2 separate regions of the Homo sapiens genome follow, and region 1 is linked to region 2. The links come from fine-mapping of genetic effects on gene expression. A gene starts in region 2. The other region holds a variant in brackets. All regions are shown on one strand. Distances are between the middles of the regions.

Region 1 (8,706 bases), 49 kb after region 2:
AACCTCCGCGTCACAGGTTCAAGCAATTCTTCTGCCTCAGCCTCCCGAGTAGCTGGGATTACAGGCGTGCACCACCACACCCGGCTAATTTTTGTATTAGAGGCGGGGTTTCGCCATGTTGGCCAGGCTGGTCTTGAACTCCTGACTTCAGATGATCCGCCTGCCTCTGCCTCCCAAAGCTCTGAGATTACAGGCGTGAGCCAGTGCACCCGGCCCTGATTCATAGTCTTTTAATATTTATGTCTAATACAGAAATCTTAACCTGCTTGGTGGTGAGGTGTCCTGTGAGCCCCTTGAAATTACATATAAACTTTGCCTGTGTGTGTGCATTTTTCAAGGGAGAGGTTGCATAGCTTTTGTTAGTGTGAGATTTGGGACTAAAAAATGGTTAAGACTGTTAGTTATTATTCCTGTTTTCCATAGTGGCTATCTTAAGGTACATTTCTTCAAATATTCTTTTTTTTTTTTTTTTTTTTGAGACGGAGTCTCGCTCTTTTGCCCAGGCTGGAGTGCAGTGGTGCGATCTCGGCTCACTGCAAGCTCTGTCTCCTGGGTTCACGCCATTCTTCTGCCTCAGCCTCCCGAGTAGCTGGGACTACAGGCACCCACCACCACGCCCGGCTAATTTTTTTGCATTTTTAGTAGAGACGGGGTTTCATCGTGTTAGCCAGGATAGAATGGTCTCGATCTCCTGAACTCGTGATCCACCGGCCTCGGCCTCCCAAAGTGCTGGGATTACAGGCGTGAGCCACCACACCCGGCCCATTTCTTCAAATATTATAACATTTTTCTTCCTGGCATTGTTACCTCCACTTCCTGAGCATCTCATTAAAGGTAACAGATGTAGGTTATTCTAATCTTTCAAAAAATCTTGTGTTAGTGGAAAGGAGAAAGTTTGAGGAAGAAATAGGATTGAGAGAAGGATGCTTTAAGGAGCTTAACCATGTTTAGGAGTCGGAGCCTGTCGGGGTTGGGGAAGATTGAAGACAGGGAAAACAAATTGACAAAATCTTGGAATACATGGCATGATGAGGTTGGATGAGCCTTAGGAAGGTACAAGAGATCTATCCTTCCATAATTTGGAAAACAAGCAGCAGAAGTTACAGTTGTTCATGCCTATTTCCTCAAAGTAGGAGATTGTGTTAGGTGTTAAGGAGGGTGATGGTGCTCAGAGGGACAGTTAGGACAGCCACCATGGAGAATCAATTCATTTTCCCTCTTGAATCTTTTTCTGTATTAGCTCCTTCCCCTGTAGAACTGATGTGTCAAAGGTTACCAGAGATCTCTTAAATCCCCTTATATTTGAGTTCCTACCTCACTAGTTTTCTTGAGATAACACAATGTAAATCTTTTTTTTCTTTTTTTTGAGGGAGTTTCGCTCTTGTTGCCCAGGCTGGAGTGTAGTGGCGCCATCTTGGCTCACCGCAGCCTCTGCCTCCCAGCTTCAAGCGATTCTCTTGCCTCAGCCTCCCAAGTAGCTGGGACTACAGACATGCATTACTGTGCCCGGCTGATTTTGTATTTTTAGTAGAGACAGGGTTTCTCCATGTTGGTCAGGCTTGTCTTGAACTCCCAACCTCAGGTGATCCGCCTGCCTTGGCCTCCCAAAGTGTTGGGATTACAGGCATGAGCCACCGTGCCCAGCCAACACATGTAAATCTTAACCTGATGCTTGTACATTAGAAATTGCTTAATAAGTGTTTTTATTATTGATGTTGCATGACAGCTGTGAAAATAGAGCTGATAAATAGGTTATAGGAGAAAGAGTGAATGAGATTGCCCAGGGAAAACATAGACTAAGAAAGGCCTGGACAAAATATTGCTTAAAGGTGTTCTAGAAGAGAAAAATGAGAGAGGTAAACAAATCGGGGGGTGAGTGGAAAAGAGATAATATCGTTATGTTGCTAGTTAACTGTTTCCCAAACATGTGGTTAACTTTCATACCTACTTGCCTTTCCTCCTGCTTTTCTCTTGGTCCTCTCTCTGGCTGGCTGAGCCCCATTCTTTGACAATTCAGCTTTTATATGTTGTTATAGCTTTTCCTCATTCCTTTATGCAGAATTTCTTATTTATCCATGTCCTCATAGCACCTAATGTACCTGTAGACAGTGTTTCTAAATGGAGTTGCAGACCTCTTTGAGAATAAATATGAAATGTTTGAATCCTCTTCCTAGAAAAATCTACATTTTACTCTTTTGCAAATAATTTCAGAGAAAGCCTGGATTCCTAGAGGCCTGTTCCATAGACCCCAGATTAAGAACCCCTGGCTTTTGTTTGTTTGTTTTACTTTAAAAAATTACTTGGCTAGGCACAGTGGCTCATACCTGTAATTCTGGTACTTTGGGAGGCTGAGATGGGAGGATTGCTTGAGCTTGGGAGGTCAGGGTTGCAGTGAGCCATGATTGAGCCACTGCGCTCTAGCGTGCGAGACAGAACGAGACTCTGTCTCAAAACAAAAATCCAGGGTTCTCGGTAGTTAAAAAAAGAAAAAAGAATTATTTCAACTTTATTCATATTTCTTTGGCTGGGGTGTAGGGGGCTGGGGGCGGGGGGAGGTTAGACATTGTCCAGTAAATGCCCAAGGCTTTAAGCTTCCAGTTTTCATATTTGCAAAAACTTGAAACTAATTCCATTAAAGTGACAAAAATGTAAATAATCTCTCTCTTTTTGCCATACTGTATAATTAAAAATATGTAGCAGTTAAAAGTCTTACCAAAATTGGCCGGTGCACTGGCTCACACCTGTAATTCTAGCACTTTGGGAGACTGAAGTGGATTGACAAAAGGATTGCTTGAGGCCAGGAGTTTCCGACCAGCCTGGGCAACATGGCGAGACCCTGTCCCTACAAAAAAAAATTTTTTTTAATTACTTGGGCATGGTGGTGCACCACTGTAGTCCTAGCTACTTGGGAGGCTGAAACAGGAGGCTCGCTTGAGCTCAAAGGATAGTCCTAGCTACTCAGGAGGCTGCGGTGAGCTATGATCATGCTCCAGCCTGAGCAACAGTGAGATTCTGTCTCTTAAAAAAAAAAAAAAAAAAAAAAGCCCAGGCACGGTGGCTCACACCTATAATCCCAGCACTTTGGGAGGCTGGGACAGGTAGATCACCTGAGGTCAGGAGTTCGAGACCAACCTGGCCAACATGAAATTACCAAAAATTGTCTCAGAAGTTTGACAAAATTGTTCATTTGTGTCATAAAATTTTGTCAAAATTTTTTCTCATAAGCTTGACAAAATGGACAATTTCAAAGAGAGTAGGAGGTATTGGAGGCCAGCTGATTAGCAGTGGGAAATCATATGGGCTAGTACCAAGTTTTTGCCTTATTATAAGTATAGAGAAGTGACAGTTCCTACATGCAGTTTGAAATAATGGTGACAGAATGCAGGGTTTGGAATCCGAGATAGTGCCTAAATTTTGAGCTCAGGAAGAAATGGGGAAAGGAAAAAGGGAAACAGTGGTAAGACAGGAGGATGCTGAATTAGGTTAGAGTTGACGATAGAATAACCAATTTAAAATGTCTTATAGATAAAATCTAGAATGAAGCTTTGGTAAGAAGTCTGAGCTACGTACATAAGATTATCAGCAACATATATGTTAAGGTGGAGCCATTTAAAGAAAGAACAGAAGGGACCTATGATTTACTGATTGTTGAAAATCAAAATAAAGGAGGCAGAGAAAATAAAGATTGTGAGTCAGCAGGACTTTTGTCTTATTTTCAAGTGGATTTATTGATTACTTTTCTTCTTACAGCCAAGTGCAAGATCTGTGAATGGGCGTTTGAAAGTGAGCCACTATTTCTCCAGCATATGAAGGATACTCATAAGCCTGGAGAGATGCCTTATGTTTGCCAGGTATTGCCTTTTTCTCCAGGGAGTTTTAGCAGTTTTGC[C/T]CTCAGGAAGAATACAAAGAATTTACTAATGAATATTGTTGACCACCTACTGCATACACTCAGTTTAGGAACTCTGAGTAGGTACAGAAGAAATAGTAAACACAGTTTATCTTCAGGGTTTCCATGCAGGAGAAAAACATAAAAGAACATGTCCACAAGTAGACTAGCCGGGAACATGTGCATATTCTAAGGGAGTGTCTGTCTCCTGAACGTGCCCTTTGGAAATTGACAGAAAAGGCTTTATTTTTCTTAGTTAGAGAACATGGATTATTCTTAGACTTTCTGTCCCTTCCTATTTTTAAAGTAATAGCTAAACCTATCACAAACATAGCCCAGCATTACAAAGTCAGGAAAATAATTTGATTTCTATGCATTTGAGAAAACTTTTTTTTTTTAATTTAAAAATTTTTGTTGCTACCTTTTTTTTTAAGGCCTCTCAGTTGTTCACTTCATTCTTAGCCTTATTTTCCCTCCTATGTGACTCAGGTGTGTCAATATCGCTCCTCACTCTACTCTGAGGTAGATGTCCATTTTCGGATGATCCATGAGGATACCCGGCATCTGCTCTGCCCTTATTGCCTGAAGGTCTTCAAAAATGGCAATGCATTCCAACAGCATTACATGAGGCACCAGGTACTAGGCACCAAGCAATTCCCATATTCTCTTGTTTTTTTTTTTTTTAAACATGGATGCTGGGGCCAGGGCTGAGCTAGGCAAATAATTTGGGCAGAGATTATAATATGCATATGTTTGCAGAAATTTATTGAATTCACTTAATGTGCCATGTACTAGTCTAGATGCTAGAGATTTAGTAGTAAACAAGGCAAACAATACAATAAAACATGAAGAGTACTGTGTTGGGGAAATTATAGGATATAGAAAATCACATAGCTATTCTGGGTGCCTAGTAAGGCTTCCAGAAAGAAGTGTTGTTCAATACCTGAGGGATGAATAAGAATGAGCCAGATGAAATAAGACGAAGAACAGTGTGCCCAAGGCACAAAGCAAAATTGTGGAGGTTCAAGAAATTGAGAGAGATTCAGTGTAGGGTGTAAGAGACAGAGGGGTTGGAAGTTAGGCAGGGACAGATCATGGAGGATCTTTTAAGCCATGAAAAGAATTCACTGGGAAGCCACTAAAGGGGTTTTAAGCCCTGGAGTGATGTGTTCAGCTTTAGTTAAGGCTTTATACTGCCTGCACTGCAGAGAATGGATTAAAGGAGATTGAGACTACAGTTAGGGAAACTAGCTAGAAGGCCTTTTTCAGTAGTTTAGGTGAGAGATGATAGTGGCTATTGGCTTTTGAAATAAAAAGAGGGTAGAGTTGAGAGATATTCAGAAGATTTGTGATATTTATGATGTAGAGATGGATTAGGTGAAGGTAGCAATGCAGTAGTTAAGAATAGTGCCTAAGATTCTGTCTTGGGCAGTTGGGTGAATGAGGGAACTATTTGCTGAAATAGAAACAATAGAGAAAGTATATTTGTGAGGGGGGAGATCATGAGCTTGGATATTGTAAGTTAGCAGTATCTGTGGATGTCAAGTGTAGCTGTTGGATAATAGATCTCAAGCCTGTGAGAGAACTCTGGGTTGTAGAAAAGATTTAGGAATCAGCGTTATATAAATCCTATAGATTTTAAACTTAAATACCATGGGCCCCCCAACCCTGTTGAGAATAAGAGAAGGCTTAGGATATTTGAAGTCCCTTATCTATAAAGCAACCACCATAGTACTAGGAGGAAAACCAGAAGAGTCTTAACCTTAAGGAAACTGGGGAGAAGAAAGTGTTTTAAAGAAAAGGGTGTGATCAAAATGTCATATGTTACAGGAAGGTGTCAAGCAACATAGAGACTTAGAAACAGGCCTTTAATTTAGCAACATTGATGAGAGCCATTTTGTTGGTTGGTAGGGTGGAAGTCACATTTCAGCAGAACAAATGAATGAGAGGTAAGGAAATGAAGACGATGTATTTAAAGAAGTTTATTTATAAAAAGGGAGGACCCAGGGTAGGTAAATCCAGAGGAAGAAGTGGCAAAGAAGAGTTTTTTATTGCTTTTATTTTCCTTATAAGATGAAAAGCTATGACTTCGTTTTAAAATACTACAAGAAGAGAGCCACTAGAGGAGAGTGAAAGGTATATAGTATATAAGAGAGGATTCAAAATGGAGAATAAGATGAGTGCATGTGTGCTTAATAGTCACATACATATGCACACAAACATATGTACCCTATTACACTCATAGTCTCCTTTGCACAGTAGTGACTGCTGATTGTCTACCACAACTGTATTTCCAAATAGGGGCATGGAAATTGTCTCTTAGCCTAAGCTTACAGAGCTTTGTTATCCTACTAAAGAAAATCATAGACATGGGTTCTATTTTTGAAGGACTTCAATACTAGGCAGACTGAATCCTCAAAGTGGTCTCACCAGGAGACATATCTGTATATACTGATGTGTTAAGTGAGAAAACAGCAAGGTATAGACAAGTGCTATCATTTGTGTTAAAAGGAGAAAAAGAAGAGGGCTGAGGTGGGAGGATCACTTGAGCCCAGGAGGTGGAGTCCAGCCTGGGCAACATGGTGAGACAACATCTCTACAAAAAGGAAAGGGAAAAAAGTAAGGGCCAGGCACAGTGATGCACGCCTGTAATCCCAACACTTTGGGAGGCCAAGGCAGGTAGATCACTTGAACCCAGGAGTTGAAGACCAGCCTGGGCAACATGGTGACACCCCGTCTCTACAAAAAAATACAAAAAGTAGCCGGGCGTGGTGGCACGTGCCTGTAGTCCCAGCTACTTGGGACGTGCAGTGAGCTATGAACATGCCACTGCACTCCAGCCTGGGCTACAGAGAGAGACCCTGTCTCAAAAAAAGGGGGCGAGGCAGGTAATGATTGGATATGAATGTATTTGTGATACAGTTATATGTGTAGACTGCCCACGAAAGCATACTCAGGAAACTGGTAATAAGTTGTTTGTATGGAAGGGGACTGAGTGTTGGAGTTGAAAGCAAAGTTGGAAGAGTATAGAAAAAAAAGTATGACTTTAGTTTACTATGTACATTGTCCTTTTTTAAAAAAAGAAGAATGAAGAATGTCCAGAAGAATGTCCAGTTGTCAGCAGTGTAAAGATATAATACAAATAAAGGTTACATCACTCATTCAAATTGTTAAAACAAGTCAGGAAAGGATGATTTGAGAACTTAGTCATCCTGGACTAGAATCCATCTTTCTTTGATATCATGGGAGGTGATGATTCTCAATGGTAGGTTTTGTGGTCATGTTGCATATTTCTTTCTTACTCTCTTAAATTATCAACAGAAAGGTGGGAAGAATGATATGGTTGACATTGATCTGCTTTCTCCTCAAAAAAGAAAATTTATTAGGAACCTTTAAGGGATTTTGTCTCTTTTTTTCCCTCCCCCACTTCAGAAGAGAAATGTTTATCACTGCAACAAATGCCGGCTGCAGTTTCTCTTTGCCAAGGACAAAATTGAACACAAGCTTCAACACCATAAAACCTTCCGTAAACCCAAGCAGCTGGAGGGCTTGAAACCAGGCACCAAGGTAAAGAGTTTGCCAGTGTCTTTTATAGGCCCAGGGAGGGAGGAATAGAGATTTTCAGTATTCTGAAATTTAGTGTGGGTGATGTCTCATTGTTACTTCCCTTGGTTCTCAGGTGACAATCCGGGCTTCCCGAGGGCAGCCACGAACTGTTCCTGTATCCTCTAATGATACACCTCCCAGCGCCTTGCAGGAGGCAGCACCGCTGACCTCCTCAATGGACCCTCTGCCTGTCTTCCTTTATCCCCCTGTCCAGCGCAGCATCCAGAAGAGAGCTGTTAGGAAAATGTCAGCGCCTTCTTCTAAGTGCTGGGCGGGTGGGGACTGGGTGGCCAGGATTATTCCTGATACACAGTGCAATCTGGTAGCTTTTTAGCAGGGTTTGTTGTCTGAAAATCCTACATTTTGGGGACCCATGAGGCAGTAATGAGAATTCTTTTTTTTTTTCCCCCACAGGAGTGTCATGGGCCGGCAGACATGCCTGGAGTGCAGCTTCGAGATCCCAGACTTCCCTAATCATTTCCCTACTTACGTACACTGCTCTCTGTGTCGCTATAGCACCTGCTGTTCTCGAGCTTATGCCAACCACATGATCAAGTAAGTTGGTTTTTAACCAGTGTTTTAGCTTGAGAGTTCAGATTCTTTTTTTCTTCTTCTTCTTCTTCTTTTTTTTTTTTTTTTTTTGAAGACAGGGTCTCACTCTGTCCCCTAGGCTGGAGTGCAATAGCATGATCTTGGCTCACTGCAACCTCTGCCTCCTGGGTTCAAGTGATTCTCCTGTCTCAGCCTCCCAAGTAGCTGGGATTATAGGTGTGCACCACCATGCCTGGCTGATTTTTTTGTATTTTTAGTAGAGACGGGGTTTCACCTTGTTGGCCAGGCTGGTCTCAAACTCCTGAGCTCAGGTGATCCACCTGCCTCGGCCTCCCTAAAGTGCTGGGATTACAGACATGAGCCACTGCGCCCGGCCCCAGCCAGATTCTTGAGCACTCATTTCATTTTCTCCCCTGCTTCTAATATGTTTCCTCCTTCAACTCTTAGAGCTATTTGTTCTTCTCTCCTAGCAGAGTGAGAGGCTCTGTTTTTTCGGTTTTGATGGTCTGTGCTCTAATTTCATAGGGCCTTGCTATTCAAGTACCAGTAGTATTAGGTGGGAGCTTGTTAGAAATGCTGACTCTCAGCCCCGCCCTAGGCCTACTGAACCAGAATGTGAATTTTAATAGATCCTCAGTGACTTGTATGCATATTAAAGTTTA
Region 2 (8,706 bases):
ATTTGACATTGGTCAAATGTAGATCTCCACTTGCCCTTTATTTCATGGCAATTTGCCTGTCAAGTTAAGCACCTCAATGTTTTCCTTCCACCACACATGCTGACTTATACACATGCTGAATCCCAGGCTCAGTGCAATCAGCTATCCATCTTTTCCACCTGGGAGCTGCTCAGATGGTAAAAATGTCTCTACTGTTTTTCTCTTACGTTTTCTGAAATGAGTAGCTCTCTTTGAGGTTCCAGCTTTGACAATCCTGAGTGTGCATTACAGAGAGTGGGATACCCATTTCTTTCTTTCTTTTTTTTTTTTTTTTTTGAGACGAAGTCTCACACTGTGGCCCGGGATGCTATGCAGTGGCGTGATCTCGGCTTGCTGCAGCCTTCGCTTCCCAGGTTCAAGCAATTCTCCTGTCTCAGCCTCCCAGGTAGCTGGGATTACAGGCATGCACTACCACACCCGGCTAATTTTTTGTATTTTTAGTAGAGACGGGGTTTCACTATTTTGGTCAGGCTGGTCTGAAACTCCTGACCTTGTGATCTGCCCACCTCCGCCTCCCAAAGTGTTGGGATTACAGGCGTGAGCCATCGTGTTCGGCTGTTACCCATTTCTTAAAGAAATCTGGCATTATCTCCCACGAAGCTTATTTCTGCCTGGACTAACCTCACCATCTGAGCCTCCCTACTCCCCGCCCAAACACATACCAGTCAACCTCACGCTGAACCTGAACAATAAGTGATTAGGTCTGCATTTTAGCAAAATGATGCCACCGAGGGCATCCATGACTCAATGCTTTTGAAGACATGCTGAAATCATTTGTCTCTCTTCTTTAACATTCTCCAAGCTACAGGTGGTTCCAATTTTCTTTTGTATGTTTTGTTGTTGTTGTTTGTTTGTTTGTTTTTTGATGGAGTTTCACTCTTCTTGCCCAGGCTGGAGTGCAATGGTGCAATCCTGGCTCGGTGCAATCCTGGCTCACTGCAGCCTCCACCTCCTGGGTTCAAGTGATTCTCCTGCTTCAGCCTCCCAAATAGCTGAGATTACAGGCGCGTTCCACCACGCCTGGCTAATTTTTTGTATTTTTAGTAGAGATGGGGTTTCACCATCTCTACTAAAGACCTTTGGCCAGGCTGGTCTTGAACTCCAGACCTCAGGTGATCTGCCTGCCTTGGCCTCCCAAAGTGCTGGGATTACAGGCATGAGCCACCGTGCCCAGCCCCAATTTTCAACTTGTGGCAGAAACCGTAAGTCAAGGAAGCAAGTAAGTATTTCCATAAACTGTAGAAAAGAAACACTCTCCAGCTATGTAACTGAAAAGCTCAGCTTGGGACATCCATTAACCTTTGACTTTCTTTCTTAGAAAAAGTTTCTAAGTTGGCTACTGAAGACTGGAATAATTTTTAGGAGTACCACTATTAGGATCAAATTTCTTCAACATATCAGACTGGATTGGCTTTCAGATTCCTCCCCAGTATGTTACAGAGGCACATACGAGTTGATTTCTAAGGATCTGATTCAGGTTATTTGTTCTACTACTTGGGTTTCCCATCATCATCAAGATGGTTCAAACCATTATCCAGATGGTCCAAAAGAGAGACCAAAGCTATCAGTTCTGTTACTTCACTCTGGAAACCTGTGTTTTAGCTGAAGAAGCAAAATGTTCCAACACTGTCCAAATTAATATGAGCATTCTCTCTTTAGCACAAGGAATACGTTTCTGGAAATAGCAGTGTTAACTGTATAGTCTCTTTTGAAGTGCTGCACCAGTGTTGTAATGTAAGGTGGCAGAGTTTCCTTGAAATCTTCTGAAGGTATAAAATGTCTTTGCTCATCATTTCCTTTTTTTTTTTTTTTCTTTGAGATGGAGTCTCACTCTGTCACCCAGGCTGGAGTGATGTGGTGTGATCTCGGCTCACTGCAACCTCCACCTCCCGGGTTCAAGCGATTCTCCTGCCTCAGCCTCCTGAGTAGCTAGGACTACAGGCATGTGCCACCACGCCTGGCTAATTTTTGTATTTTTAGTAGAGATGGGGTTTCACCATGTTGGCCAGGCTGGTCTCAAACTCCTGATCTTGTAATCCACCCACCTCGGCCTCCCAAAGTGCTGGGATTACAGGCATGAGCCACCACACCTGGCCAGGATACCTTTTACAACGTCAAAAGACACTCCATTCCCTAATTGCCTGTTGATCTTTACCCTCTGTTTCCTCACCCATTTCCTCAAAGGTGCCTCCAGATCCTGCAAAACTCCCACTTTTACATTTAGCATGATAGACTTTCTGTATTCTTGGTGGCAGGCATAGCACCATCACTCATTTTATTGGGCATTATGGGTCAAAACTGTCTCCCAGGGCACAAACTAAATGACAGAAAAATAGAGAGGAGTAAGTAACACACCACAGAACTCAATCACCTGAAGCAGCAGCTTCACAACTCCCATCCTGGTCCAAGCTACCATCAACTCTCACCTGGATTATTGCAATAGCCTTCTATCTGGTCTCCCTGCATCTGCCCTTGCCTCTATTAGTTATTCTTCACAAGCAGCCACAGTGATCCTTTAAAAACGTGAGTCAGGCCGTGTCACTACTTGCTTTATGATCCTCCAGCAGCTTCATTTTCACTACAGGTAAAACCTAAACTTTGCTTCACTTTCTTCAGGTCTTTGCCCAAATGTCACCTTAACAAGGACTTCTCCAATCACCCCACATAAAATAGCAAATTCTCCACCCCCATGTCTGCACCACACTCCTAATTCCCCTATCCTGCCCTTTACCCTTCATAGCACCTATCACCATTTCATATAATCCATATTTATTTACATAATGTATATCAGATTGCATTTTCCAAGATGGCCACAAGATTTCCCTTTCCGCACACTTTCTTACAATGTGACATTTCCACTATTCCCGTTGAGAGATGGGGATCTATGCTCTCCATCCTGTAACTGTAATGGAAGTAACACTATATGACCTCTGAGACTAGGTCACGATCTCTGTCTGGTCCTTTTGGGGCACTCAGTCTTGGAACTCAGCCACTATGATATGAGGAAGCCCAGGCTACATGGAGAAGCCACTTGTAAATGGTCTGCCAACAACCCCAGCTGCGGTCCAAGCCAACAGTCAACCTCAACTTCCAGACATGTAAGGAAGCTTTTGAGATTACTTCAGCCCTAGCCACTGCATACGAGACTCCCAAGTGAGAACTGTTTAGCTGAGCCTAATTACCTCCCAGAACCATGAGAGGTAATGAAATTGTTGTTTTAAGCCACTAAGTTCGGGGTCATTTGTTATTTAACAATAGACAATAGAACAATTTGTTTATGTGTATATTTTATGTCTCTTTCCTTCTAGAGTATAAATCCCACAGATTCAGGTATTTGTTGTTGTTGTTGCTGCTGTATTCCCAGCACCTAAAACAGTGCCTAGTACATGTGCTCAATAATTTTTTTTTTTTTTTTGAGACAGGATCTTGCTCTGTCCCTCCCAGGCTAGAGTGCAAGTAGTGTCATCATAGCTCACTGCAGTCTCAAACTCCTGGCCTCAAGTGATCCTCCCAAGTCTTCCAAGTATCTAGGAATACCACAACCAGCTAATGAAAAAAATTTTTTGGGGCCAGGCACGGTGGCTCACGCCTGTAATCCCAGCGCTTTGGGAGGCGGAGGCGGGCAGATCACGAGGTCAGGAGTTCGAGACCAGCCTGCTTGGTGAAACCCCGTCTCTACTAAAAACAGAAAAAATTAGCCAGGCATCGTGGCGCACGCCTGTAGTCCCAGCTACTCAGGAGGCTGAGGCAGGAGAATTGCACCCAGCAGGCGGAGGTTGCAGTGAGCCGAGATCGCGCCACTTCACTCCAGCCTGGGGGAGAGAGCGAGACTCTGTTTAAAAAAAAAAAATTTTTTTTTGTAGAGATGGGATGTTGCTAAGTTGCCCAGGCTGCCCTCAGACTGCTGTGATCCTCCTCCCTTGGCCTTCCAAAGTGTTGGGATTACAGGTGTTAGCCACCATGCCCAGCCCCCAATAAATATTCATTGAATGAATGAATGGATGCATGATCCATTTTCAATAAAGCATGCTAACAGTTACTGGTCAACGGTATATGGCATAGTCTGCGCTAGATCTCATTGGCTGGGAGAATAAATTGACAGGGCATGGGGAAATATGTTGGAATTTTTCAAAGGTTAATAACGTAATATACATAATGTAAATATAACATATATAATGAATTATACTAATTACACGACAGTATAAAATAGGATTTGAGTTTCATGTAGTCTTTTGGTGATTGATCCCATAATCCTAATATGGGCTTCTCCAGATCAGGTCTGGAAAGTCTTCAGAAGTATTTTCAGAAGGATTTAGTGATTCTTCTCATTCAAATAATGAAGTCCTTCCTAAGCATCCTACACTAGTGGAAATCACTCACATGGTTTTGGTATGAAATGGAATGAAACTGGGTGGTGGCAGTGTGTGTATGTGTATGCACATGTGCACACTCACACGGGCAGGTGCATACAATTTGGAATGCCTACTTCCACTGCCTATTTTCAGTCTGGTGGTTTGAATGGAGTGTGTATATAAAGAGCACAAATAAACATAGTTCTGGATTTCCCCTTTCTGCACCAAGTACCTTGATTTCACATTTGGTTTGAAGCAAATATTTGTGTATTGCTTAAATAGCAAACATTTTCAAATATTCAAGGAAAATATTACATTTTTATAATCTCAGAAGGCAATAAAGGACAAAATTTCTTAGCTACCTGAAAAGAGGTAGTTTTTGTCTGGGGAAGAATAAACAGGTGGATGGTCGTTTGAGTGGACTAACCAATTTCTTTGAGCCAACCCATCTCAGCCTTGATTGGAGCAAAAAGCATAAGGATGTGGAGTGTGTGTGGTTTCTTGGAACTGGGGATCTCTGCTGAATCTACTCACAATGGGAGCAAAGCAGTTTCCATCACAATAATCGCTTTAACAATCGTGTGCCACTTCTTTCCAGGATCCAGAAGGGCTTGAGGATCAAAATGGCTTTTAAAAGTTCTTCACTTAAACAAGGCCGCAGCCACAAGGTTACTTGGCCGAGTGTCTCTTGAGAAAGAGTGAGTGCCATTTTGTTCTTTGTTCCAATGACAGTTGTTGGTGCCACTGGGCCTCACCACCTGGCCTGTGTCATGAAGTCTCCCTCTTGACTGGGTCTAAGCCTTGAGTGGAAAGTGGGGGAGCCTCCCAACACTTCCTTGGAAACTCTTGGCAAGTAAATTGGGGAATATTTTCTTTGGAAGTCTCATTTTTCTCACCAAAATTTAGATATAGCTTCTGAAGCTAATTATTCTTTTTTCATTACAAAAAATGTTTTCCTTTATTTATTTATTTGCAGGCCCAGCCAAACTTGACTAGAAAAGAAGCCCGGGCAGGGGTTTGGATGAGCCCATGACGTGCAGCGCGCTCCGACCAATTGGGAGGCCGTGAAAAAGGGGAGGGCGGAAGTGACGAGCCGTATCCCTCCGCGGGGCGAGAGGGTCGGTGGGGGGAGTCGGCGTCTCTCTCCCCCGCGCCAGCTCCCGTACACGGAGCCGCATTCCTTGGCCCCCCCACCCCCCTCCCTCGGGGCCCCCCCGCCCCCCTCGGGAAAAAAATCCACCCCGAATCACTCGAACCCGAGGGAGGCTTCCTTTCACCCTTGGGGAGACGAGCTTTCAACGGTTACCTCTTCTTCGTCTCCCCCCAAGCCCCCGTCCCCTCCCCCTGCTCCCACCCCCTTCTGGCGCCGGGTGTAAGGTCCCTTTAAGGCGACGGCGCCTTCCTCGGGTCAGACTACCGGCGGCGACGACCACAGGAGGTGAGTGAGCGAGCGAGCCTTCTCTCTCCCCACCCCCTGCTCCCGGGGGTTCCGTTATCTTTTCGCTCGGCGAGGCGTTCAGAGGCGAGACAATGAGAGGGGGATGGGGCCGGTACGCGCGGGGGTGGGGGCGGGGGGCCGGCGGTGCGCGCCCCCGCCCACCGCGAGTGGCGGCGCGGCCCGCGGCAGGGGCGGCCGCGGGGTGCGGCGCGCGAGCGCGAGTGTGTGTGCGTGCGCCCCGGGCCGCGGGAGCCGCGCGAAGGGCCGGCGGCGGAGGTCCCTGCCTGCCGGCTGGCCGGCCGCCCCCGCCCCCCGGCGCCCGCCGCGGCGCGCGCGCGCGCACTCGCGCCCCACGGCCCCGCACACAGCCCGACGTCCACACGCACGCTCGGCGCGAGGCGTCTCGGAGGAGTGGGCGGCGCGGGCGCGGGCGGTGGCCCGCTGGGGAAGGGGCGGGGGCGGGGGCGCGGGCGGTGGCGAGACGGCGGGGCGCGGCGGGAGGGGCCGGCGAGGGGGCGAGGCCGTGCGGCGGAGGGGCGGGCGGCGGCGGAGCGGCCCCTGGGGGTGGGGGTGCGCGGCCCTCCCCGCCCCATTCCCGCTCCGAGAAGGAGTGGGGCGCTCGTTTTGAGCGGGAGGAGGAAAATGAGTGATTGCTGAGCCGATCCCTTGTGTTATGTAATCTCTGCTTGGTCTAATAGTACATCCTAAGCCTTAGTGCACTGCAGCTAGTTTACGAAGTCTCCTCCCTCGGTCCCCAAATTTCTTTTGGGATGGCGCCGTGATTTATAAAATGGAATGAGGCGGGGAATCTTTATTTTCTGGTGATTATGTCCTGCCGCGGTGGGCGCCATGTTTATCCCGGGGACTATTTTATTTAGATTCTTGGCACCTTTTGCAAAGGAGTACTGTCATTGATCTATTTGTTTTCCGTCTTTCTGCGTGTTGTTCTTATTTCCTTCCTCTCCAGATGTGGGATTCTCTCAAACTGCTAGTAGCACTTGTCTTAGACATTCTTAGTTCAGAAAAAGGTAGTGCTGATGAGTCCTTAGAGTCATTTAGTGGCCAGTCTCATTTTCGAAATGGAAACTAAGATGCAGTTGGACTATCTCACAGCAGCCGCCGTCTTGATGCAAGCGGTGTAGCCCGTCCTTCCAAGCCCGTAGACACCTCTTACCGCCGCTCAAAACTCCACAGAAATGGGGTTTTACTTTTTTTTTTTTTTTTGAGACGAAGTTTCACTCTTGTCGCCCAGGCTGGTGTGCAGTGGCACGATCTCTGCTCACTGCAACCTCCGCCTGCCGGGTTCCAGTGATTCTCCTGCCTCAGCCTTCCTAGTAGCTGGGATTACAGGCATGTGCTACCACGCCCGGCTAATTTTTGTATTTTTAGTAGGGACGAGGTTTCACCATGTTGGCCAGGCTGGTCTTGAACGCCTGACCTCAGGTGATCCGCCCGCCTTGGCCTCCCAAAGTGCTGGGATTACAGGCGTCAGCCACCGCGCCCGGCCGGGTTTTACTTCTGTAGGCATTTACCCAACTAGAGGAAAGGGAAACGGAGGGGGCAGGGAGGGCTGCTCGTTGGCAAACGATTAATTTTGAGACACTATTGCTCAGGGTCTGAGAGCTTGAACTCTGAATTCGAACTGTTAGCACAATCGTTCTCAACTTCGGGGTGCATAAAAAGTAACTTGAAGGTGGTTAAACGTACAATTTGGGGGGCCTCATCCCCCAAATTTATTTGAATGGAGCAGAGGGGGGTTGTCATCTTTACATTTTCAAATGAGCAGTCCTGGGGCTGAGACTGATTAATGTAACCACTACATTGAGAATTACTGGTCTAACATAAAAGTGTTCAAGATGTTGAAACAAGTGACACCTTGTGCCGTTGATTTCCTTCCCTTTTCCAGAGCTGTGTTGGTGGTGTATCTCAAACTAAAGGAGGTAACAGAATGGACTCTTGGGACGAACCTGATTTAGTTAGAGTTTCCACTCCCATCTTGAACTAGTGGTATAATGTAGGAAAGCAGTTCTCAAAGTGTGGACAGATGACCCATGGGGATCTCCTCTTACCCTTTCAGGGTAGCCTCAAGGTCATAACTATTTTCAAAATAATAGTAAGATGCTATTTATTGTTTTCACTGATACACTGATGGTTCAAAAGCAAGGCTGGGTAAAACTACTGGCGGTACCTTAGCACAAAGCAAGTCAGGGGCACCAAACTACTTGAGAATGCCCTTGAAGCAGTAAAATTTATTATTCTATTTTTATTTTTTTGAGGCGGAGTTTTGCTCTGTCGCCCAGGGTGGAGTGCAGTGGCACTATCTCGGCTCACTGCAATCTCTTCCTCCCTGGTTGTATTTTTAGTAGAGACAGTGTTTCGCCATGTTGGCCAGGCTGGTCTCGAACTCCGGACCTCAGGCGATCCACCTGCCTCGGCGTCCCAAAGTGCTGGGATTACAGGCATGAGCCACCGTGCCCGGCCTATTATTATTAAGTCTTAGCTTTTGACTACATGTCTTTTTAATTTTTAAGAATTTGTGATTAAATAAACATGGATAAAGCATTTATGCTGCCTAGGGAGGTGTGATTGTTGTCATGAAGGAAAAGCATTTGTGAGATTGGGTTGTGAATGAATGGCTTATTTCATGGAGTAGCATTTTTACTTGAAAGAACGACTAGCAGACTATGGTTTTTCACACTTAGTATTTGGCAGATATTTCTTGAAAATGAAGTGAGCTTGTCACTTTTAGGAAAACAACTGACAGTATTTATTACCAGTGATAAAATTTGGGTGAAAATTAGAATTTTTAAAAAGTTGACAGCTGGAGTTTGACAGCTTCCTAGTACTTAAAAGACTTTCCTTATGATATCAGTGGTT

What was found. PIP is the estimated chance that this variant, and not a neighbour inherited with it, causes the effect.
Region 1: its variant is fine-mapped to the expression of POGZ in whole blood (INTERVAL, PIP 0.93).

The regions. Positions count from the first base shown.
Region 1 is chr1:151,407,441-151,416,146 of GRCh38, reverse strand. POGZ (pogo transposable element derived with ZNF domain) reads left to right here. Exons shown (of 19, transcript NM_015100.4): 11 at 3,751-3,851; 12 at 4,376-4,522; 13 at 7,319-7,453; 14 at 7,566-7,738; 15 at 7,907-8,047. Among named protein-coding and RNA genes, the nearest start is that of PSMB4, 12 kb to the right of the region's middle. The variant C/T (reference allele first, on the strand shown) is at 3,890.
Region 2 is chr1:151,456,275-151,464,980 of GRCh38, reverse strand. POGZ (pogo transposable element derived with ZNF domain) reads left to right here and starts at 5,487. Exons shown (of 19, transcript NM_015100.4): 1 at 5,487-5,829. RefSeq lists an enhancer at 5,217-5,266 and silencers at 6,097-6,146, 6,337-6,386.